Homo sapiens: one gene and its partners. The protein of the gene in region 1 interacts with the protein of each later gene in a pairwise test. Each region holds a gene or a part of one and is shown in the gene's direction. Other genes may lie near its edges.

Region 1 (7,325 bases):
ATCATAATGATTTGATACAAATATTATTCATTTTCATTTATTTATTTTTTGTAGAGGTGGGGTCTCACTATGTTGCCCAGGCTGGAGGGTAACACAATCATAGTGCACTGTGGTCTCAAACTCCTGCCCTTCTCAAGTGATCCTCCCACCTCAGCCTCCAAAGTAGCTGGGACTACAGGCATGTGCCACCTTGCCTAGCTTCTTTATTTATTTATTGAGACAGAGTCTTGCACTGTTGCCCAGGCTGGAGGGCAGTGGTGCAATCTTGGCTCGCTGCAACCTCTATCTCCGGGGTGCAGGAGATTCTCATGCCTCAGCCTCCTGAGTAGCTGGGATTATAGGTGCCCACGACCATACCTAGGTAATTTTTGTGTTTTAGTAGAGACAGGATTTCACCATGTTGGCCAGGCTGGTCTCAAACTTGAGACCTCAGGTGATTCACCCGCCTTGGCCTCCCAAAGTGTTGGAATTACAGGCGTGAGCCACAGCGCCCGGCCTTCATTTTTAAAGTACATGAAAAAACTATTTATGACAATGTTGAGTTTTACCTAAGCACTGTGCTCCTAGAGAACAGCAATGATTAACCCCTTACCCCCTAACCCCACCTCAACCCCGTCTCTCGGGTTCTGGAAATGGCTCACTGCAATGACTGAGATAAAACTCATGGATTCCCCTCTATGGCGATTCCCCACTATACCCTGTTACTAGACCGGATACAGATAGCCCCAATTCCCATTTGCCTCATAAGTGACTAGCTGAAATGCTTGGCCCATTGATCAGCTGGAAAAAAATGCTCATTAATGAAACTTTGGTTAAGCTTTTGTCCTTCCCCAAGGCCTCTGAATTTTGGCCCACCCTCAGCCTAAACCAGCATGAAATCCCTCTGTAACAGCCCCCTTGAGAACAGGCTGGCCTCAGGATAAAGCAATCTCTGATCTACTGCCCCACCCTGTCACTCTCGTTCATCCCACTTACCTACACCAGGTTCTTTCTAGACTGGTTTACTCCTTCCTATAAAAGAAAATCCCTTTTTGCCTACCCCTTGAGAGTTTGTAGATTTATGGCCTGAGTGTTCTCCCTGTTTACAGAGTCTTACCACCCTCACCCCACCCCAAAATCATCCTTTTAAATAAAATCTCTCTTTATCAAATCTGGGTCTGTTTTTTTATTTGACATAATATGCAACATTCTTTTTTTCTTCTTCAGCTTCTGCTACGGAGTTTTATCCAAGCATAATATATTTTCATGCTTGGTAATATTTTATGAAGCACCCTATTGTACATTTCTGTCACACAATTATGCAGATAAATTTGAACTTGTTAACTCTAAAAAATTTTCTGTGACCATGAGGTTCTAAGGGTTAATTTTTTTTCCTTCTAGATTGAAATGTTGTTGTAATTATTAGTAGTACATATGATTAAAATACATGCATAGCATTTCATTATATGAGAGAATCTTTAAACATACAAGTTAATTAATCTTCATTAAAATGTCATGGAAAATATATCTTTGAAGGAGATGGATTGAGCCAGTTATTTTTCCATAAATTTGTGAGTCCAGAGATGAGTATCACTTTTTGTAAGAATGAGACAGAGGTGAGTCTGTTGTTTTGATTTTATAGTTGTAAGCCTGATAAACATTGTTTACATTAAAACCATAGAGAAATGGGAAGGGTTTTAGTCTGGCAATTCTCCCACTTCTTTTAAATTCCTGATAATTATCTATACTCATGTATTTATTTATTTATTCATTTATTTGTTTACTGGAGACAGGGTCTGTCTGGCTCTGTCACCCAGGCTGGAGTGCAGTGGCTCAATCATAGCTCACTGTAACCTCTAACTCCTGGACTCAAGGGATCCTCCCACTTCAGCCTCCCCAGTAGTTGGGACTGTAGGCACACACCTCCACATTTATTTATTTTTGTGAAGACAGGATCTTGCTATGTTGCCCATGCTGGTCTCAAACTCCTGGCCTCAAGCAGTCCTCCAGCCTTGGTCTCAAGAAAATGTTTTTAATGACCTAACAACATGATTAGATCCTCCTTGGATCTTGGTGAAAGCAAAGAATGAGAAACCACCTGACTTGTAGAAGGATTTCTTGCCCCGTCCTCAACAATAATTAATACATTATTTAGAATTGCCCTATTGTTTCTCCTGGAGACTTTTATTTCCCAAGGTAATGCAGCAGAGCAAGATTTAGAACAGGTGCAGTGTGAATTGCCTTTGAAAAGTGGGAGACAGCTGGTTACACATGAGGAGAGGGAAGCTGAACCCCAAAGACCCCAGGCATATTCTGAGGCCCAGCACCATGGAAGCAGAGGATCTGGATATTGACTCTCTTAAAACTCTCCTTGGTTGGGTGTGGTGGCTCACGCCTGTAATCCCAGCACTTTGAGAGGCCAAGGTGGGTGGATCACGAGGTCGGGAGTTCGAGACCAGCCTGACCAACATGGTGAAACCCCATCTCTACTAAAAATACAAAAATTAGCTGGGCATGGTGGCACGTGCCTGTAATCCCAGCTGTTCCTGAGGCTGAGGCAGGAAAATTACTTGAACCCGGGAGGCACATGTTGCAGTGAGCCGAGATTGTGCCACTGCATTCCAGCCTGGGTGACAGAGTGAGACTCCATCTCAAAAACAAAAACAAACAAAACAAAAAAAACTCTCCTTGCCCCAGATTTACCTCCCACAGTCCCCATGCCTGAAGACCGCTGTCCTATAACCCCTTCCCCTCTGCTCTCTGATCAACGCTGCCTCCTAAGTAGCATTTGAATCTGTCATTTCAAATGCTACTTAGGTGGGGAGCTCTTTATCCTCCACACCACTCTGGACATCATGATCTTCCAAATTTCCACAAACACTCCCCCACTCCTTTCTCCAGTCCTCATCCATTCCTCTCTATGCTGCAGCCAGAACAAGTTTTTTCAAATGCAGATTCACTGGTAAACTATCTATGGCTTAAATCCCTCTGCCTCCCCAAAGCCTTCAGGGGCCTGGGTAAAAGGATTGATCTCTCTTGTGACCTCATCCCTTGTCCTGCTTCCCTCAAATTTGTACTCCCATCAGAAAGAGCTCCTAGCTTATTTCTCATCACAGGTACGTTTCCAAATCACTTCTGCTTGCAAAATGTGAACTAAGAGAAGTCAGACTGCTTAGGTAAGGATCTTTGGATTCTAGGTGTTTCTCCTTAATTTAAGTGTCAATTTCCTTAACTGTAAAACTGAAATAATAGTAAGGTCATTGTACAAATTAACTGAGTATTTTGCCTGGCACATCATTCGTGCTCACATAATACGTGTGAACTGTTTATTATTGTTCTTGTTATTACTCATGTTACACTGAATTTTCTTTCTTTCTTTCTTTCTTTTTTTTTGAGACGGAGTTTTGCTCTTGGTGCCCAGGCTGGATGGAGTGCAATGGCGCGATCTCGGCTCACTGCAACCTCCGCCTTCTGGGCTCAAGCGATTCTCCTGCCTCAGCCTCCCGAGTAGCTGGGATTACAGGCTCCCGTCAACGCCCGGCTAATTTTTGTATTTTTGGAGAGATGGGGTTTCATGTTGGTCAGGCTGGTCTCAAACTCCTGACTTCAGGTGATCACCTGCCTCGGCCTCCCAAAGTGCTGGGATTACAGTCGTGAGCCACCGCGCCCCGGCCTCATGTTGCACTGAATTTTCTGTTAACCTTGCTGTTTCCCTGCTGTTAGATAAACAACTCAGGATGCTTATGTGTTTATTGTGTGCATCCCACTGCCAAGCCCACGTAGGAACTTAATACTTAGGAGTCAAGTGTTGCAAAAGAATAAATGAAAAAGCAGCGCTGACGGAGGAAACCTGACTTTCAAAGTCTCTCTTTAGTGCCTACTGTGTATATTATTTCCTTGAATCCCAGAACACCCGAGGAGGTAAGGGCCGATGTTCCCAATCTGCAGATGTGGGTGTACTCAGTAAGTCATTCGGCCTTTGGTGGTACCAGGCTTACAGGAGCCCACATCCCGACCCAGGTAGAGGAGTGGATTGGAGCCGGGGAACACTGATGGGACCGGGCAGGGACGACAGGAGGTCAGTCTCCCTTCCCTTCTCTTTAAAATTTCCCGCCAGTATGGCCGGCTCGCAGCACGAGTTACGCCCTCTTCAGGAGTCCCTCCCCTTCTGCTCTCGCCCGCCTCCCCGCTGCCAGGCAGGCTCGACCAATCAGAAGAGGTCTTGGGCGGGCGCTGCCGTCCAGCGAGCCAATAGGCGGGCAGTCGGAGCCGGGCTTGCCCGGGCATGTGGGAGCTGCCGGCTTTCCGGACGCCACGTGCAGACCGGAAGAGACACGCGGGGCTTCAGGTGAGATCCAGGACCCTGCACCGGGGCGGCGGGGTCGGGCGGGCTGAGGCCGCGTGTCCCGGGTCGCAGGTCCCCGCGCGTTGTTTCCGCCCCGGCCTGCGGCGGGGACGCCTGAACTGGGCTGACCCTGCCCTACCGGCCCGCAGAAAAGCAGGCCGGGCGCCGCCTGTCTCCAGCCCTCGCTCTGCTCGGGGGTCCAGGGCCAGAGGGGGCGGCGCTGGTCGTTGGGACTCGGCCCAGCTGCCGCGGCCAGCAAGTGACCAACGCCCGAGTCCTTCCCGGTGAGATCAGGCCTCCCACGCGTCACGCCTGGGAGAACGCCAGCCGGCGGGGAGGTCGTGCCAGGATAGCAGACTTTAGTTGTTGTCGTTGTTCCGTGGACTTTTTAGCAGCACAGGGGACCTTATCGAGCCAGGTTTTTTCAGGTTTGGGCGATTATCAGAATTGTGGCTTGAGGGTAGGGGTCGTCCGCGCTCTTTTTAAAAATCTAGATTCTCAGGCCCCTTTCCCCAAAATAGCAATTAGGACGGTGTGGGAGTGGGCCTGAAAATCAGCCTTTCATCAGATGTCATATGGTAATTAACTACATTTGGGAAGCCCTTATCTAATTCACAGCCCTCGGTTGATGGTGAAGAGACGTGACTTGCCCCAGATCATCTAGCTACTTAGTGCCAGAGGAGGGTCTAGAACTGCCCTCTGCCCTCTTGATCAGCCAGCAGGTTGGTGGCTCTCATGCCACCGAGGATTCTGACTTCTTGGTTCCTTTGGGGCCTTTGCTCCATTGACTCTGCAGCTGGGACCCTTTCTTTAGGCCAGACCCCCTCCCTGCCTGAAGGCCGGGTGTCTGACCCCCAGAGCGCTGGGTCCAGGCTAGAGAAAGGCTTGTGTTTGTCCTTGTTGAAAGGGTTGTTTTATCTGAGCGGAACTTCTCTCCAGCTTCACTGAGCTACATTTGGGTCCCCAAAGAGGTGTGTCCTTGATGACTGTTGGTTTTGACGTGTCAGCATGTAGCAGGAGGAGCCGCGGACAAAACCCCACAGAGGTAGTGAAGGAATTGGCTTTTAATCAGCTGGAAGCATCGGCAGACTAGCATCTCAAAATCCGAGCTTGTTGAGTGCACAGTTTCTGTCCCTTTTAAGGACTCACAACACTAAAGATTTTACAAGAAAGGGCCATGATTGATTGAGCAATCTAGGGGGTATGTGACAGGGACTGCATGCACCGGTAGTCAGAGTGAAACAGAACAGAACAGAACAAGAGATTTCACAGTGTCCTTCTATACAATGTCTGAAATCTATGGATAACATCGGTTGCTAGGTCATGGGTTTAATTTTAACTATCAGGCTAAGGTCAGGCAGGCCCAGGCCTGGTTTTGGGTCTGGTTTTGGGTCTGGTGCGTGGCGCCGGGCTGCCTGCCTTTGGTTTTGCTTCCTTGTTTCTTCTTAAAACAGGTACTGAGTATAAAATAATACAGAACAATATGAGGGGGAGGTCTCTTTCTCTCTTCTCTTAAGCAAGGTCAGGGTGTTTGGAAAAGGACTACTTTCCTCTCTTGAAATAGGAGGCTACAGAGACCTTTTCTCAGATAACTTAATTTCTGGCTTCTTTAAAACCTTGCCAGTAGGATCAGGAAAGCCACCCACCCTACTCCTAGCCTCAGCCCCTCACAGAGAAAGGAGGGGACTATCCGCCAGCCCCCTTTCCCAAATTAGTTATTAGCAGGGTGGGCATTGGGCTTCTTAGGCTTTTTTCTCCCATTGCTGGGCTGAGGCAGATTAAGGTTCTGAATTTGTCAGTTCTAAGATGTGACTGTCAATATGAGGAAGTTGGTTACAGTTAAGACCTTTTTAAAAGAGAGACCTTTTCTCCTGGAAAGGATGGGATGAGCAAGCAGGGTGGATGAGTCAGGATGGGTCAGGTCTGGATGAGTCAAGTCAGGATGCGGTGCCCTGCCCTAGAGTGTGGGGATTCTTTATGCAAATGCTGGCATCATCAAACCTGGCATTTCACCTCACCTCCCATCCCCTTCCCATTTCTCTTAATCTCTGCTGCTACTGCTCAGGTTTTCATCTTCTCCAGACCTCTTTCTACACCCTTCTGAAGAGGACCTGCCACATGCTAGCTTCTAGGCTGGCTGTTGGGGAAGGTACAATCAAGGCTCTAACCTGCCTTCTTACAGCTCTGAGGTAGACTGTGTGTACCAATGGACTTTGAAGGGTGTAATAATTCTCAAATTGTGCTATAAGAGCTCAGCACAGAGGGATGAATTTCTTTGCTCCCCAGCTAGACTTAGTGTCCTGAGTCAGGGCTACTGTGGGATATTTCAGTGACCTCCATAGGTGCCTCTGGGGCTCCCCCACTCACTTGGCCAGTAGAGACCAATTCAGGGGACACCAGATTGCGGTAGGGGTGGCTTGTGGAAGGGCCACCAGAGTAGGAAACAGAAGATGAAATGGTGCAAAGGAGAGAGGAGCGAGGAGCAGTGCCTCCAGCATGACCCGCCTTATGCTCTACACCCCAGTGACTTGAGGCTGCTGGTGGGCCCTCTTCCTCCACCCTGGGTTAGTCCTTTTTAAGGCCTTTGCCCCTAACATGGCCACTGATTCTTCTCCCTTCTACCTGGAAGGTTACTGTTGTACATGCACACAGATGTAGCCTCTTCCAGGAAGCCTCCAGAGAATTGTCCTCCAGCCTGTTTTGCCTCCCTAGCACCTCTGCTTCAGCCCTTAACACACTTTATGCTTGGTTTCTGTCTCCACCATGAAACTAAACTTCTTGGAGTCCAGGATCCACCTGTGCAGCCGCCCAGCATCTGGCACAGTGGAGACCCGAGAGAGCCTCAGTATGGCATTGGCCTGTGCAACCCAGTGGGACAGAGTTTCTTCCAGAAGGGCTTCTGGGTGGTGGCGGAACAGTAGCTGAGTCTGAAAGAGCAGGAGGGCTGTGAGTGGGAAGGGAGGCTGTGGCTTGGGAAAGGGCAGTGAGTCCAGGCGGAGGC
Region 2 (7,054 bases), on another chromosome or scaffold:
TTTAAAATGTTCAGAAGAGAAGCTGTGCTTCCTTGGAAGAGTTACTGGCAAGTAGCTTTTGAGTATTGGCAGGGGCTAGAATCACCATGAGCCGGATCCTGGGCCATTCCCCTGTCTGCTCCGCCTCAGAGACCCTGACCTCTGCTAGCCCATTGCTGACCTCAACTACTGATAGAGTTCTTCAGACTCAGTTGCTCCCTCATCCTGCTGATCTCCATGTGCGAGCAGTCGAATCAGCCCTTCTTTCTTTTCATCTTTTATCTTTCTTTTTTCCCCAGCAAGATTTTTATTGTTCAAATTAGTGAAGTATATCTCTCTGCCTTCCTGAATATTAATGACAAATTAGAACTACTTTATGTAGATGTGGGTTATTATGACATATATCCCTTTTAGTATTGTTTCCCCATGTTCTTTATCCTGCTTTGATTCTGTGTGATCATATATCAGTAAAGTTTGCTACTTCTTTATGATTTCATGTTTGGCAGAATACAAAGAAAAGTATCTCCCGTTATATAAAAAAGTATATGAGGAAAATAGAATTAACAGTTGCTTTTATTAAATACTTCAGAGATTATTTCACAAGTGCATTTCTTTAAGCAGCCTAGGATTAGAAACAAGTTGATCTAATGTCAAATATCAGTTCTGCCTCTTAGTTGTAATGCTGCTTCTCTAAACCTCGGTTTTCCCACATTGTAATGAGCTGAGGGTTAAATAACGTGAAAACATCCAACACATTAGACAGGTAGTGATATCTCCTTCTCAGACAGCTTCATGACTCTTGTCATTAACTGTATTTGGATTCAAATTCAGGTTTAGAGAGAGCTGAATTTAGGAGTCTCATTTTTTTTCTCAAGACATTTAAATACTGGGCCATATATGCATAAGACACAGCACAGAAATGATTTTGATGTGGCTTCCTCTGGTAATCAAACTGAAGACTACTTGCCTGAGCATCTAAAGCCATTGTAAGGTACTAGCCTTTCCTCTTCATCTCTCTCCGCTTGTAGGTTATTTCCGATGTTGAAGAAGATGCCGGGGAACTAAGCAGAGAGAGTATGTGGGACCTTTCCTGTGAAACTGTGAGAGAGCAGCTTACAAACAGCATCAGAAAACAGTGGAGAATTTTGAAAAGTCATGTAGAAAAGCTTGATAACCAAGGTAACCACTGCTTCTATGCATGTAAAGTGAGTTGTGACATTTGGTAAGGTGTTGATTTTTAGTCACTTAGAAAGCCGCATTATAGGCTCAGAGCTAAAGTACTATACTTCAGTTTGGTGGTTTGAAAGCAAGATTTTGCATACATTTATTTTTTCATTTTATTTTATTTTATTTTACTTTTTGAGACAGAACCTTGCTCGGTCACCCAGGCTAGAGTGTAGTGGTGCCATCTCGGCTCACTGTAACCTCCGCCTCCCAGGTTCAAGTTATTTCTCCTGCCTCAGCCTGCTGAGCAGCTAGGACTATAGGCGCACATCATAGCCAGCTAATTTTTTGGTGTGTTTTTAGTAGAGATGGGGTTTTGCTGTGTTGGCCAGGCTTATCTTGAACTCCTGGCCTCAAGTGATTCACCTGCCTTGGCCTCCCCAGAGTGTCTGGATTACACGTGTGAGCCACTGTGCACAGCCGACATTTTACATACATTTAGATGTGAGGTTTGAACCTCACTGAGAAAAATACACTTTGGTCTCAGAGTGAATGTTTGAAAAGAGGACATCATGGATCCATCTGCTCTGGATGCAGTATACAATCAAATAAAGATAACTGAGTTGGGATAAAAGACTACACATTGGGTGTAGTGTACACTGCTTGGGTGATGGGTGCACCAAAATCTCAGAAATCACCACTAAAGATCTTATTCATGTAACCAAACACCACCTGTTCCCCCCCAAAAAGAGAAAACTGAGTCTCTTTTACTGACTCTCAAAAATCAAGAAATATTTATCGTAGTATAGATAGGAACATTTTGCTTATTTCTAGATGCTTGCAGATTACTATGTTCCTAGTAATTCACTTAAAATTATTTTTAAAATAATAGATGTTTAATGCAAAATATTAATTTGGAAGTATATAAAGTAGAATATCCTGGTCTCTATTCCATACATATAACACTTAACAGTTTGGTGCATATTTTTCTATACTTTCCTCTATGGATTTGAAAGATACTTACTTTTTTTTAAATTTTAAAAATTGAATATTACCTATATTTTTCTTTAGTGTGCTTTTTTCACTTAACTATTATCCTTATACATAGCTCTACATTGATGAATATATTCTTAATATTTTCTGCTTGGTAAAGTTTGAATGCTTTTAAACTAGGAAAATGAAGATTTCTGCTCAGTAAATGAAGCCTATTTAAAGAAAAATTTAAATTGTCAAAATATGAACTCAGTGCCATTGTGTTAAGTATTAGTAAAGAGCAATCAGCAAAATTATTATTACAGCACCAAAATGAATCTACATGAGATTTTGTTCATTTGAGTCAATGCTGTTTATTATCAAATAGCAAGTATGTTTGGACTTCGTATTTGTTGAATTTAATATTTGAGAGCAAGATTTGTGACACTTCATTGATCTTTGAAGCAGTGTCAACAAAAACATGATTTTATTTTTCTCTTCTCTGAATATGGCCATTTTGTCTGTTTTTAATTAGGACATAATCATGAATAAATATGGATTACAAATTGTTGGCAATAGAGCTCTGTTTGTAAGCATATCATTTAGTCTTAAAATTGCACAAATGTGTAATTGTCGTCATGAACTCCTGTAGTTGCTTTGCTTAAACATTTTTTATAATGTTAAAATAATATAAATTTAATTTTGTTATAGCTTATGAAATTTTAAAAAGTCAAAGGACGTAACTACTTTTTAGAAAACCTATAAAATTCTAGAAAGATAAAAGTTCTGAGAGCCCTTGTTTTAAAGATATGTGCAAAACACTGTAAACTAAGTGGTGGCTATAAGACCTATGTCAACTTACTGATTTTGTCTTAGTTTCAAAGGTACACCTGGAAGGTTTTAATGATGAAGATGTAATCTCACGACAAGACCATGAACAAGAAACTGAAAAACTCGAGTTAGAAATTCAGCAGTGTAAAGAAATGATTAAAACTCAGCAACAGCTTTTACAGGTGAATATGAATTACCTTTTAAAGCTGTTCTCCATGAAAAGCCAGAATTGTGCTGAACCTTACCAGATTTGTATTCCTTTATTTCATAAGGCCCTGGTATTTGACAGATTTCTAGTCTGTGTTCCCTGCTAACAGATACATTGTGTACCACTCCTTAAATAGTCCATACTTTGCTAGTTGGGGTAGTAGGTTTCGGGAAATGAGAATTCTCATTTGACTTTTTGATTCTTAATAATTTCTATTCCTGCCCTGAAGTTTGACTGGCCTTCCCTTGCTTTCATTTCAACTCGTTGGAGTGTCGCAAGGTCCCTCAGGAACTTACTATGTTTTAAATTTTAATAGCAGCAGCTCGCTACTGCATATGATGATGATACCACTTCACTATTACGAGACTGTTATTTGTTGGAAGAAAAGGAACGTCTCAAAGAAGAATGGTCCCTTTTTAAAGAGCAGAAAAAGAATTTTGAGAGGGAGAGACGAAGCTTTACAGAAGCCGCTATTCGCCTGGGATTGGAGGTATTTTAAACAATTGTAGTGCTTTTGAAAATACTGGGGGTGGGTGGGCCTCAGTAGAATGCTTCTAAGGTCTCCTTTTTTTCTTGCTATTTACTTATTTTCTAAAATATTTACTGGTGATCTCACAAATAATTTGAAATGAGAGGGAGGCTGAGCATATAGAATGGGATCATTTCCCCTTACCAGATTTGAGAATTGAACTTAAGAAAAAAAAACGCTATAAGCATTTATTACTGCTTTCAGATTGGCTTTCTCCTGCTAAGTGTTTTACACAAGAAATCTCTTTTGGGTATCCATCATTCATCCACGGTCAGTAGGTGTGGTGTCAGAAGACAGTGCAACCAAGACTATATTTGCTGTTTAAAAAGGAAGTATAATAAAAAATTAAGTTCTCTTCTCCCCAGTCCATCATTGTTATATATACGCTCTACAGCTTGCTTTTTTTACTTAGCAATGTGTCATCTACATATTCCCCCTTCAAAAATTGTAGCAGTAATGTCTGAATAAGGTTAAAAAAAAAAAATCAACAAAACTCATTAAAAAAAGCTACAAAGTAAGAAAGTATCCTCCTTTCTCATCCTCAGTTTCATTCCTTAGAGGTAACTGCTGTTAAAAAGTATCTGTTGGAAATTCTTCTAGGAAGTACTATTTTAACTTTTAATGTATTTCAAGTTTTCTTGTTTATCAGTTCATTGATTCCCTGCTATGAAAGATAAGGAATTCTGTGTCCTTATTGTACCTCCTACCTACACCCTTCCTCATTCACATCTCATGTCTTCATAATATTGTTCCTCTTGTTCGTCTGCTTGCCTTTTTTTTGCTTTAAGGAAATAATAAAAAGCTTCCATTTCATGTTTGTTCAACTTCAGTCAGTATCAGTTCATCCCTGCAGTGAAAGCTGAGGACTTTCTTGTTGTTACTCTTGTTCTACCTCTCTTGCTGTACTACTTTGCAATTTTTGTGATATTATTTTTCATTGTTATCACATTCATAGTTTGTCCTCTAATACAATCCAGGTATAAGTACTTTGTCTAAACTTGAGACTTAAAAGTTGGAAAACCAGGAAAGAAAATTGATAATACTACAATTATGTAAATGTTATTCTATAACCAAATATGTTTGGACACAGAAAATATTCTGTATTATTAAGACTTTGCCACCCAGAGAGATATATCACTATCTAGTGAATTCTTTTTCTCTGTAGCTTCCTTTGTGATTTCCTGAATCAGATTTCAGCTGCCATGTTGCTCATATCTCATGTTACTGTCTTTCTTGGGTTTCTGTTCAATTCGCTATATTAGTAATTGAGTAATTACTAATTCTTGAGTAATTTTTTTTTTATAAATAGTGCATGAGCTGTAAACATTCTGAATTCTGGAATAGTCAAAAATATATTCATACTTGATTGGTTTGGCTGTGTATAGAATTTAGATTCCAGTTTTTTTTCCTTCAAAACTTTGAATTATTCCATTTCTCCTAGTGTTTAGTTTTACTGATGAGAAGCCTGATTGTAATATACCTGTGTTACTTTGTAGATAACTGTGTTTTGTTTTCTATCTCCCTCTGTGGAAGCTTTGGTATTTTCTTAAAGTTTGGAAATTTTACCAGGATACTTCTAGAGAGTTCCTTTCATCCTAAAGATTCTGTATTTCTTTAATTTAGGGAAATTTTCTTCTTTATTTTTTCCTTCTTTGACTTCTCTGTGTTCTGGAACTTTTGTTAGACACACATTTGGCCTTCTGAATATATATCTACAGGTTGACTTTTGTTCTCAATTCTGGGATATTCTCTTACCTTTATCTTAGAGATCACGAAACTGGCCTTTCAGGGTCAGTTTTATTATTTGCTTTAGCCACTGAGTCTTTGCTTCAGAATTTATCTTTAAATTTTTCTAATGTCCTTAATTTTTGCTTTTCTTTATATAGCATGATGGTATTTTACAGATGTTTATTAATCTGATAATATTTGTTACATTTTTAAAAAAGATTTCTTTCATCTGTTGAATTATCTCTTATCCATGGTCAGTTTTCTATTTATCTTGACCTTTTTTCTATATTAGTTTTCTCAATGTTTGGTGATGCGTGATTCTGTATCAATATTTATGAATGAAAGACTGTGTGTTGCTTGTTTTCAGTAGCTGACGTGGATTTCCTCAGTTCACAGTGTGAACGTCTGTTTCATCAGTAGCTATCTTCAGGGAACAACACTTGACCAGCATTGTCTCCTACCTGTTTCCAAGCCCTTATTCCCCACATTACTCCAAGAGAGTAATTACTCTTGCTACTTTGCATATTGCTCCCAGTTGCCAGGTGCCTTTCCCTGCAAGAGAATTTTTCTCCGTCTGGTCACTGGGACAGTGGGCATAGTGAGGGATGGGAGGGAGGCATGCAAGACCTGAGGGCTGATGGAGAATTTAGTTTAGGATTCATCAGCTATTCAGAAGGGGGAGGTTTGACATAATTTGCCTATGCCCTCTTGTGGTTTAGTGGTGGTGGCTACCAGTACTGGTAGATGGCTAGAGGATGAGAGAAATGCTTGATGAAGTCATAGGTCCTGTTTTTCAAGTGACTAATTTACAATATAGATTATTTTTCTTTTGTTTGTAACTTTATAATGTTTTGTATGTTCAAAAGTTATGCTAATATTCTGTTCCATTTTTTGCATTGTTTATTTGAACTTAAAATTGATATGAAGACAGTGATGGTTGGTTTATTAGGTGAAACAGATGAATTTCTATTTTTTAAACATAATTTTTTCGTAAGTGAAATTTTTCTTAGTTTTTTTGTTTTTGTTTTTTTTTGAGATGGAGTCTCACTCTGTTGCCCAGGCTAGAGTGCAGTGGCGTGATCTTGGCTCACTGCAGGCTCTGCCTCCTGGGTTCATGCCATTCTCCTGCCTCAGCCTCCTGAGTAGCTGGGACTACAGGCACCCGCCACCACACCCGGCTAATTTTTTTTGTTTTGTATTTTTAGTAGAGACGGGGTTTCACCATGTTAGCCAGGATGGTCTCGATCTCCTGACCTCGTGATCCACCCGCCTTGGCCTCCCGAAGTGCTGGGATTACAGGCGTGAGCCACCGTGCCCGGCCGTGTTTTGCTTTTTGAGATGGAGCCTTGCTTTGTTGCCCAGGCAGGAGTGCAGGGGTGCGATCTCAGCTCACTGCAACCCCTGCCTCCTGGGTTCATGTGATTCTCCTGCCTCAGCCTCCTGAGTAGCTGGGACTACAGGCGCACGCCACCATGCCCGGCTAAATTTTGTATTTTTAGTAGAGATGGGGTTTCACCATGTTGGCCAGACTGGTCTCAAACTCCTGACCTTGTGATCCGCCCACCTTGTCCTCCCAAAGTGCTGGGATTACAGGCATGAGCCACTGCGCCCGGCTTTTTTTTTTTTTTTTTTTTTTTTTTTGG
Region 3 (2,504 bases), on another chromosome or scaffold:
CTGTGCTTATTTGCATGGACTTTGCATATCATTTGCATAGACACCTCTGATCCCCTTCAGTGGGAACCGTAGTGTCAGTGCTCATTTATGTGGCATTTGCTTAGGATTCCAGATCTCCATCCACTTTTCTCCTGGGGGCTGGGCTGGGGGTTAGGGCTGGGACTGTGCCCCCACACTGCGCCTCAGCTTCCCATCTCTGCCCGCTTGCTTCCCCTGCCCCCAACCCCTGCCTCCTCTATCCCCCAGGCTCTCCAACTCTGCAGCAGTGGCAGCAGCAGTCAAAACAAACACGGGGGGCGGTGGGTGGGATGGTGGAGCAGCCCGGGGGCTGACCCAGGCTGGAGGACAGGGCCAGCCACCCTCCCACGGCCTGGGAGGAAGAGAGGCCTTCTGGGACTGCCCAGGCTATGGGGACAAAGGCCTTCACCAGCAAGGGCCACAGTTGGAACAGTCCCCTGGGTGTCAGAAGGTGGGCTAGGGCCTCCTGCAGGGTTGTGGGGTGGAACAGGGTCTCCTCTCCCCAGCCAGAAACCCCAAAGTCTGGGAGCTGCACCTTCCGAGTGCAGGCCATGTGAGCCCTGCCTCTTTAAGGAGCCGCAGGACATGAAAGATGACCTTGTGACACTCATGCACAGCAGCCATTGCACGTGCATCAGCTCCCATCAGCCTCATTCCGTGGCAGGTGATGTGTCCCCATTGGTTAGGTGAGGAGGGTGAGGCTCAGAGAGCTAAGGACACTTGTTTGGGGCCACACAGCCGGGGTAGATCTGAGCCCGTCCTCTCTACTCCTGTGCTGTAGCACCTTCACTGGCCCATCCCTCCCCTCTAGTGCTGTCCTGGTACCCGTCCCAGCCTGTCCCCATTCTCATGGCCCTTTGGTCACTGCCGGGTGGAATAGCACTGGCTTCAGCAGGCGTGTCATGTAAGCTTGTGCAGGTTATAAACTGAACCATGACCTTTATGGCGCATGCAGGGGGCAACCTGCATAATTATCAATGGCGACTTTCCGTGTCCTTCTGATACAGTTGATCAGACCCCTGCCCACCGCCCAGGCCAGGCCTGTGGTCATCAATGCCCCAGTTCACATCCACCTGCTTCTCTTCCAGGCTTTGCTGTTCCCCAGCAGCCTGCAGAGGCCCCACAGACAGCTTGAGGCCCCTCCTTCTGCTGCCTGGCCAAGCCCCACACCCGCAGACCCTCCTTCCCATCCTCTGAAATGGGACCCTGTGTCTGTCACCAGCCCACCCTCTGTGTTCATGAACCTGGGCTGGAGCTTGGGGACCCCTCCCTGCCCCTGGCTTCCTCTTCCATGTTCTGCCCTTTCCCACATGTTGGAGGCTTTTCCAACGTCTTCAGGGACAGGCGGTAGGAACCCCGGCCCTCGCTCTGCAGCTGGTGCAAAAGCTGTGGCTGCCAGGTCTGGGCCACATGGCAGCCCAGGGGGCAGGAGAAGCCCGGGAGAGGCCCACTGGCTACCAGACTCAGCCCTGAGCAGGGAACAGGGCCCAGCTTCCACCGGCAGGGAGTTGTGAGCGCCTTCCCAACAATGTGCCCCTCACCCCTTGATGCCCATGCTAATGGTAGCCACCCTGGTTCTTGTTGACTTGAGGGACCTGGCTGTCTTCCCTGTTCTTCATCCTTTCTTCTCAGTCCCTACCTACTGTTTGTAACCACAAGTGTCTCTGTGTGTGGGTGGGTGAGGGCCCCTCTGCCCAGTGGTGTGTCTCCTCTCCCTCCCTCCCTCTTCTGCCAGTGGCCTGGGGGTGTCCAGGCTCCCATCCGTGGCCCAGCCCCTCTCCCCTCTGTCTTGATCCCCCCCTCCCTGCCCCTGGCTTCCTCTTCCATGTTCTGCCCTTTCCCACACCTTTGTTCCTCAATAGCTGGGGGCTGGGACTGAGGCCTCCTGCAGGTACCTGCCCCCCTTCACACAGCACCTCTCAATCTCCTATTGCTTGTCAGCCTGTGTGCGTGTGGTGCAGGAAATAAAGGATCTATACCCTCCTGGCCCAGCCTCCAGCTGTCTCTCTAGGGAGTGTGTGTGTGCACTTGGCAGGGCGAAGTTGTAGAGAAAGGGTGGATGCTAATATTGAAGTATGTGCCGAGGACTCCTATTAAATACGCCGTTTAATCATAGCAGCAGCTCCTAGAGGGCGGTGGGTGATGTCATAAGTGTCTGTTGGATGGAGAAACTCAGGCCAGAGTAGGTTAAGTGATGCCCTCACCAGCAGATCATGGCTAGTGTGGAGCTGGGATTTGAGCTCATGCTTCCCTGATCCTTTCACCCCAGAGACTGACTCAGTGGCCTGGCTGTGAAAGATAGGATGGGAGAGAGTCACCCACTGTCTTAGGGTGAAGTCCCCAGAGCAGACCTGGAACAGGGTTTAGGAACAAGTATAGTCGCCCTCCGTATCCTCAGGCTCTGCATCCGTGGAGTCAACTAACCACAGATAGAAAATATTTGGGGGAGGCTGGGTGCAGTGGCTCATGCCTGTAATCCTAGCACT
Region 4 (7,054 bases), on another chromosome or scaffold:
AATGATTTACCTTTTGATTATTTGTTTTGTTTGTTTGTTTGTTTGTTTAAGGATTAAAGCAAGGAGAGCCAATCATGACTGGCAAAACACAGACCAGCAACGTCACCAATAAGAATGACCCCAAGTCCATCAACTCCCGTGTTTTCATCGGCAATCTAAATACGGCAATTGTCAAGAAAGTTGACATTGAAGCCATTTTTTCAAAGTATGGAAAAATAGTTGGATGTTCCGTTCACAAAGGTTATGCATTTGTACAGTACATGAGTGAGCGACATGCAAGAGCTGCAGTGGCTGGAGAAAATGCCAGAGTCATCGCCGGCCAACCACTTGGTAAGTCATGCTCAGACATGGATCTCACGTTATTGTTCATATATCTGGAAATTGTTTTATTTCACAAAACCCAACACCACTGTTGTTTCTACCTCTTCTTTAACCAATTAGAGTGATTTTATATTTATTATTTATATTTTTTCATCCTCATATTGTTTTGTATATAGGTATCTTATTTTCTGTACAAATTTATAAATTTGAGATCAAGGCTACTTTGCAATACTTATTACCTCCACCCATCCTAACACAGCCAGGCAAATAATAAATATGCATCAGGTTTAACTTTATTTGACTTGAGATAGCATCTGTCTTCCAGGAAACACTATCCTATGCAAAAAATAACTTCACTTGTCATACTTATAGCATTTGATCTGAGCCTAATGCATTTTCCTCATTTCCTATGTTTTGGAGGAGAAGGGGTAGAAAATAGCGAAAGAAAGTAAATTTTTAGAATGGGGAAAGGAATATAATTCACATTTTAAAAATCTAGTTAAGGATTTTGTGTATTATACCTGTATAATCATGCATAATAATCAGATTTCTGTCTAATGTTCAAGAAATAATATAGTTTTTTTCAAAGAAAGGAAAACAATGCAGTCTGAAATAAAAAGACTTGGAAAAATATTTTATAATTAATGTGTAGATAAAAATCAAAATTAGATAATTATTTAGATGTTTTTCTACCTTAGGAAAAAAATATGGTTAATATATTAATGATTCCTCAATTTATGTTTCTTGTTCTGTCTAGATTAATATATCAAACTCATTGTACAGCATCTTCTCATGGATACTCAAAAGGCATTTCAGCTTCATATGCCCAGAACAAAACCCATGATTTTCCATACCCTCAACCTTCTCCACTCCCAAATTTCCTCATCACAATAAAGGGAACCCCCAATTTATCCAGTTTAAAAAAAAAAAAAAACTTTGATTCTTAACTTCCCCCATCATCAAGTTCGCTTGTCAATATATTACAAATATAGTCCAAACCCAATCTCCTTTTAAATGTGTGCTGAAGGCCATCTCATACAGCCCATGGTTGTATCTCAGGGGCACTGAAATAACTCCCTAGTTGGTCCGCTTCTTTTTACTCTTGCCAGAGTGTCTTTTAAAAACATTGATCAGATTATGTTCTTAACCTGCTTTTAAACCTCTAATGCCTTTCTCATACAGAATAAGATTCACATTCTATACCATACCTACAATGCCCTATACTGCCACATCTTCAATTCTATCTCCTTATTCTCTCTCCCTTCTTGAACCACTCTAGTAATGCTGGCTGCCTTGATAATGCCTCAAGCATTCCAAGATTGTTCCTACTTCAGAGGCTTTGTATTTGCTATTCCCTCTGCTCAGACAACAGGTCTTTGCTAATTATTTGCTCCTTTCTTTAGAGTGTGCTGTGCTAAAAATTTACCTCCAGTGAGAGGCCTTTACTGACCAGCCTATCTAAAATAGAATAGTCATCTTCCTCCTTCTTTCACTGTCTATTCTATTACTGTGTGTTAATTTTTTTCATAGCACCTATCAGAATCTGGATTACATAGTTCAATTTATAATCTTACCTGTGTCATGACCACAAATATAAAGATGAAGAAGCATACAAAAGAAGCAAGTTAAAAGTATAGAGAAATCAAGCTAGGAGAGTGTTAAGAATATTGTGAATATTATCAAATGATATAACACAATTAAAACTATTTGGGAAGGTATGAATTCATTAAAATGTAGGAGAAGTCAGAGGGAATAGTCTTGAGGGAAAAAAGCAAAAGATGTTTTGGGTAAGTGCCTGATATTTAACTGCAAACAAATCACTATCAGATAGGAATATAGTTTTTATTTACATTGGTCCCATCGAACTTTCTATATTTTAAAGAAAGGAAAGAAAGGAAGTGCTTTCCAACAGACATTGGTATATTTTCCACTTGTCTTTTTGTTTTCCTTAATGTCTCCATTCTGCTTGCTTACTTTGATATGGGAATTTTCTGACATTTGTGTTTTCCTTTTTAAGTTGAAAGTCTTAATTCAGGGCCATATCCCAGCAGATTTCAGGGCAAGCTCTATTTACTGTCTGTATCCTGATTGTTATGAAACTAACAAATACTTGAGGAAATGCATTTAATTATTTTTGTTGTTTGAAAAATTAATTATCAGTTTAAGATCAATTAAAAGCCTGATTCACTTTTTAATGAGCTACAGCTAATTTTCTGGAGTTCTGTTTCCTATCACTACTCAGTTGATTGCTGTCTTTTTGAGAAGAATGCAATGGGCAAAGATAAATACCACACTAAAAATGTAGTGCCTTACATGCACAAACCCAAGGAAAAAAATGATGACACCAAATTGCTTTGCTTTGAGAGGCACAAAGTTAAATTGTACCTCTTCTAAGATACCATTTCTCATTCTCAGTCATTCCTCTTAGATCCTCTCTTAGTTTTGTCCTCAGGTAAATCTTTAGAGCATATATCCTAATCATCTATAATCACACTTTGTGCCTGAAACCAAGTCTTAGACTTTATTTCTTTAGTTCAAATCTCGTCTTTCACTACCTCTGTCCAAGCTGAATGACTTCATACAAAGCAAGTACATTAAAATTTATCTAACAACTTTGCTTTTCAGGTCAAGTGCTTGAATATACCCAGCGGTTTTTTTGTTTGTTTGTTTGTTTTTTACTATGTTGCTAGAAACTCAGGCAAAGACATGACTTCCAATTGTTCCCTATAGAAGTTAGTTCATCCATCAGGTCCCGAAGAAGACCCTCAGTTTGTAGGATGTATATACATTTCTAGCTTTAAGTATTATACCTTTGTTTTTGATGATTTGAGCAAAACTTAGGTTCAAGTATATTAATCACTTGCTTCTTGAGTTTTTTGATTCCCAAGTAAACTCTTTCTAATCTGCCCTCCAACAAACCCCGGCCAGTTCTTAATATGAAGTGCATTTTTATGGATGAAATAATAGGCTATTATTATATGAAGTTATTATTAGTGTCAGGTACCACGACCTATCTAAGCATTCTCCTTTCTCTTAAGAGTGAGAAGGAAATTAATATTGATTAGATCATGCACTGCATTAGTACTTTACCTTTATTACCTTATTTGATCTCAAATAATGCATATTTGTACATCATTTTCTGAAAAGGAACAATCTTTTATTTACTGCATGTTTAAAATATTTATATATGATTTAGAGATTAAAAATTAAACATCAGTAGTACCAGGAAAAATTAAACACTCTAATGTCAGTTCTTAAAGTTTTATGAAGACTATAGATAACTTGGCCATAATTTAATTTACTTTCTTATACATTTCCAGTTGTTTGGCACGTCTTTCGCACCATGATAGAGGGTATCCATGTTTATTCTTAGCTTCTGTCTTTGATATATAATAGAAGACTGCTAAAACCTCTGTGGAAAAACAAAAAAGATTGCATTTTGACTCATATTACTTAGGGATTCCTAAAATGTCAGAATCTATCTATGAAATTATTCATTATTCAGAATTTTTTTAAATCACAATTCCTATAATGTAAAAATCCTCATAAAACTTTACGTCTATATTTGGTTATTTAATTGATTTTAATACAATTTAAATATAAGCAGGTGAAATTTAACATATCCTCTTAATATTTAATTGAGTTTGAATTCTAAGTTTGTTAATATTGGAAATATTTATTGCATTTTTCAATCTAAGTGTAGTCATTAGAACTTTTTTCCTCAAACACATTATATGCGAGATAAAAACATTTTAAATGCTTAATAGAGACAATTTTTATGAGTAGTCACATACGAAGTGTCCTTTTACACAAAATGTTATGCAGAGGTTAGAGACTAAGACTAGACAGTGCCAATTTTATGTATCTATTGATTACATTGGCTTGATTACAGACATGCTATAAATAAACATTTGCAATGTCTTTCTTTATATTCGGATTATTTTACTGTTACAATGCTTGTAAAAGATACAATTTATGAACTTGAGAAGCCAGCTGTGGATAGTAGGAGGAACCAAACACTGAAAAATAATTTATCTAGAGCAATCATTTTTGTTCTGAAACCCATATGCAGGCCCCTGTCCTTAAGAAGCAAAGTGTGCTTTAGGAAAAGAATATATAAAGCAGAGAATTAAATTAATTGTATCACATTGTAAGTGTCTTGCAAATGCAGAAAGAATTCAAAGTGGGAACATGATGAATAGGGATGGTAAATTTTAAAGTAAATATGGTGAATATACTTAACTAGATCCTGAAGGAAGTAATGGAATTGTCTTAGTAGAGAGGAAGATGTTTGAGAGAGATATAAGAACAAAGAAGAGAACATTCAAATGCTTGTAACAATTCCCGTCAAGCATGTGCTGAGAGCAATGGATTTCAAATGTCTTTTCATCCCCAACTGTTTTGCATCCAGAGTGATCTTTTCAAAATGCAAATCTAATCATGTCACTGTCTTTTAAAACTTTCAGGGATTTCTCATTGTTCTCAGAAAAAAGAATGAAACCTTTGCTGTGGGCTACAAGTTTCTACCTCATTTGTTTCTTTGTCACCTGCAGACTCACATCATAGCCCCATCAGCCTTGCTTAGAGCTACAACTACATTCACTTCTTTCAGTTCTTTGAACAACTTGTGTTCTATCGCCCAACAGGGCCTGTGCACATGCTATCTTGACTGCTCAGAAAGTTCTTCCCTATGAAGCTCTGCACCACCTCACCCTACTTCCCCACTTAATCCCTTTTGCCTGGCTAATCATTCTTCAGATCTCAAATGAAATTTCAGTACTTTAGTGAAACCTACTTGTGTCCCTCAAAGCTAGCTGGAGTGTTTTACTTCACTTTCTAGCAAGTATCTTCTTTTCAATTGTATTTTTATATTTATTATTTTGTAATTGATATCTGTCCCTTCTCCCTCTAAGCTATAAGTTTTTTAGGGCACGGAATATATATGTTTTTACTCATCTTCTTAGCACCTAACAAAATGCTAACACTTCCATGGCAAATGCTCAGTGAGGATGTACTGGATGAATGATTGGATAGATGGTTAGTAGGAGGAATGGATGGACTTGGCTAAAGGGGTCCCTCACATGGAAAAGAGCACCACAGGAAGAAGACAAAGAAGCAGGAGGAGGAGAAATAAGAAGAGAACAGGGAGAAGAAGGAAGGAGAAGTGGCAATTACAAGTTCCCCAGAAAGTGAGGCGATATAGTTGGGGTTGCTGCTAAGCGAAGGCAAAGTGATCATGATCAGCTTGCTAAGGAGACTAGGTATTTAATCTTGAAATTCTTCAACAGACATTCCAAAGGTAACTGTTTCGTAGGCCTGATTTCAGTTTTTTATAAATATAATCCAATCTTTAATAAGCATGAAATATTAACACATATATACTTTATTCAAAAGTTAGAGTGAAGGATATATTGGTTTGAAGAAAGATTTCTATTCATGAAAAACTTCCTACACATTCCTTAAAATGTCATCCTTTCATAGTTTTCTCTTATTAATAGCTGGATATTTGCATGGCACTTCATCATTGTCAAAGTTCTTTCATGCACATATTATCTTCTTTGATTTTCACAACAATGCCAATAAATAATATTAGTATTTACGCCCATTCTGCTGGTTAGGAGCCAAAGCACAGAGAAATGAACTTAGTCTATATCACACAAATGGTGGTGCAAGATTGTTGGCTCACATTTTCTGACCGTAATTATTTTTACTATTTCTCTTTCCAGAAATTTATTCCATTTCAGCAGAGTGATCATCAACTCTGTCATCCAAACAGTAATACTTTTGAGAGTAAAAAGTTACTCTCATTGATTTTGCTTTGTTTGTGGAGCCTGTCCTGTGCATGGTAGGATGTTAGTAGCATCCCTGCCTTTTTTTTTTTTTTTGAGACGGAGTCTCGCTCTGTCGCCCAGGCTGGAGTGCAGTGGCGCTGTCTCGGCTCACTGCAAGCTCCGCCTCCTGGGTTCACGCCATTCTCCTGCCTCAGCCTCCTGAGTAGCTGGAGCTACAGGTGCCTGCCACCACGCCCGGCTAATTATTTTATTTTATTTTATTTTATTTTATTTTATTTTATTTTTTGTATTTTTAGTAGAGATGGGTTTTTCACCGTGTTAGCCAGGACGGTCTTGATCTCCTGGCCTCGTGATCCGCCCACCTCGGCCTCCCAAAGTGCTGGATTACAGGCGTGAGCCACCGCGCCCGGCCGCATCCCTGACTTCTACCTGCAAGATACCTATAGTACCCCTTCCAAATAGTGACAGCCAAAAATTGTCTCCATGTTACCAAATGTCTCCTGGGAGGCAAAATCACTCCAGTTAAGAATTACTGTTGTAGGGTAATCATACCAAAATAAACTCCATTAATTTTCAGAATTGTTCTAATGGTCTTAGGATAAACTATATTAAAACAATGCTTTGAATTATTTTGACAGTAACTCATAATTTATAATAAGAATGTATCTTTTCCAATTGTTCAGGAAATAAAACTCAGTAAGTGCGTTTCAGGGCAATTTTAATGTATTCATGACCATAGCTTACCCACTTATATCACCAGTTTGTTACAAAGCCTTCTGTCTCTTCACATCTTTAATACACTGACTTTTAGAGGTGTGATTTTTCTCCGTTAGATCCCTCCATTCAAACATGTCTAATCGCCACTAGAAATGATGAAGAAAAAGAAAGTATCATGGAAGAGTTAAGTGAAAAATACGGAGTACCAAGATTACTCAGAGGCT

The links.
Region 2: the proteins of AEN (region 1) and SSX2IP interact in binary tests that used the Homo sapiens proteins (3 or more experiments, as listed by UniProt).
Region 3: the proteins of AEN (region 1) and HAP1 interact in binary tests that used the Homo sapiens proteins (3 or more experiments, as listed by UniProt).
Region 4: the proteins of AEN (region 1) and RALYL interact in binary tests that used the Homo sapiens proteins (3 or more experiments, as listed by UniProt).

Annotation. Positions count from the first base shown.
Region 1 is NC_000015.10:88,617,056-88,624,380, forward strand, and holds the start of AEN (apoptosis-enhancing nuclease), read left to right. Parts: upstream 1-4,284; 5' UTR 4,285-4,327; exon of another isoform or gene 4,328-4,608; intron 4,609-7,325. UniProt on the Homo sapiens protein: Exonuclease with activity against single- and double-stranded DNA and RNA. Mediates p53-induced apoptosis.
Region 2 is NC_000001.11:84,652,422-84,659,475, reverse strand, and holds part of SSX2IP (afadin- and alpha-actinin-binding protein), read left to right. Parts: intron 1-1,007; coding exon 1,008-1,158; intron 1,159-2,991; coding exon 2,992-3,128; intron 3,129-3,470; coding exon 3,471-3,644; intron 3,645-3,887; coding exon of another isoform or gene 3,888-4,011; intron 4,012-7,054. UniProt on the Homo sapiens protein: Belongs to an adhesion system, which plays a role in the organization of homotypic, interneuronal and heterotypic cell-cell adherens junctions (AJs).
Region 3 is NC_000017.11:41,722,140-41,724,643, reverse strand, and holds the end of HAP1 (huntingtin-associated protein 1), read left to right. Parts: 3' UTR 1-2,004; downstream 2,005-2,504. UniProt on the Homo sapiens protein: Originally identified as neuronal protein that specifically associates with HTT/huntingtin and the binding is enhanced by an expanded polyglutamine repeat within HTT possibly affecting HAP1 interaction properties.
Region 4 is NC_000008.11:84,529,248-84,536,301, forward strand, and holds part of RALYL (RNA-binding Raly-like protein), read left to right. Parts: intron 1-51; coding exon of another isoform or gene 52-74; coding exon 75-330; intron 331-7,054.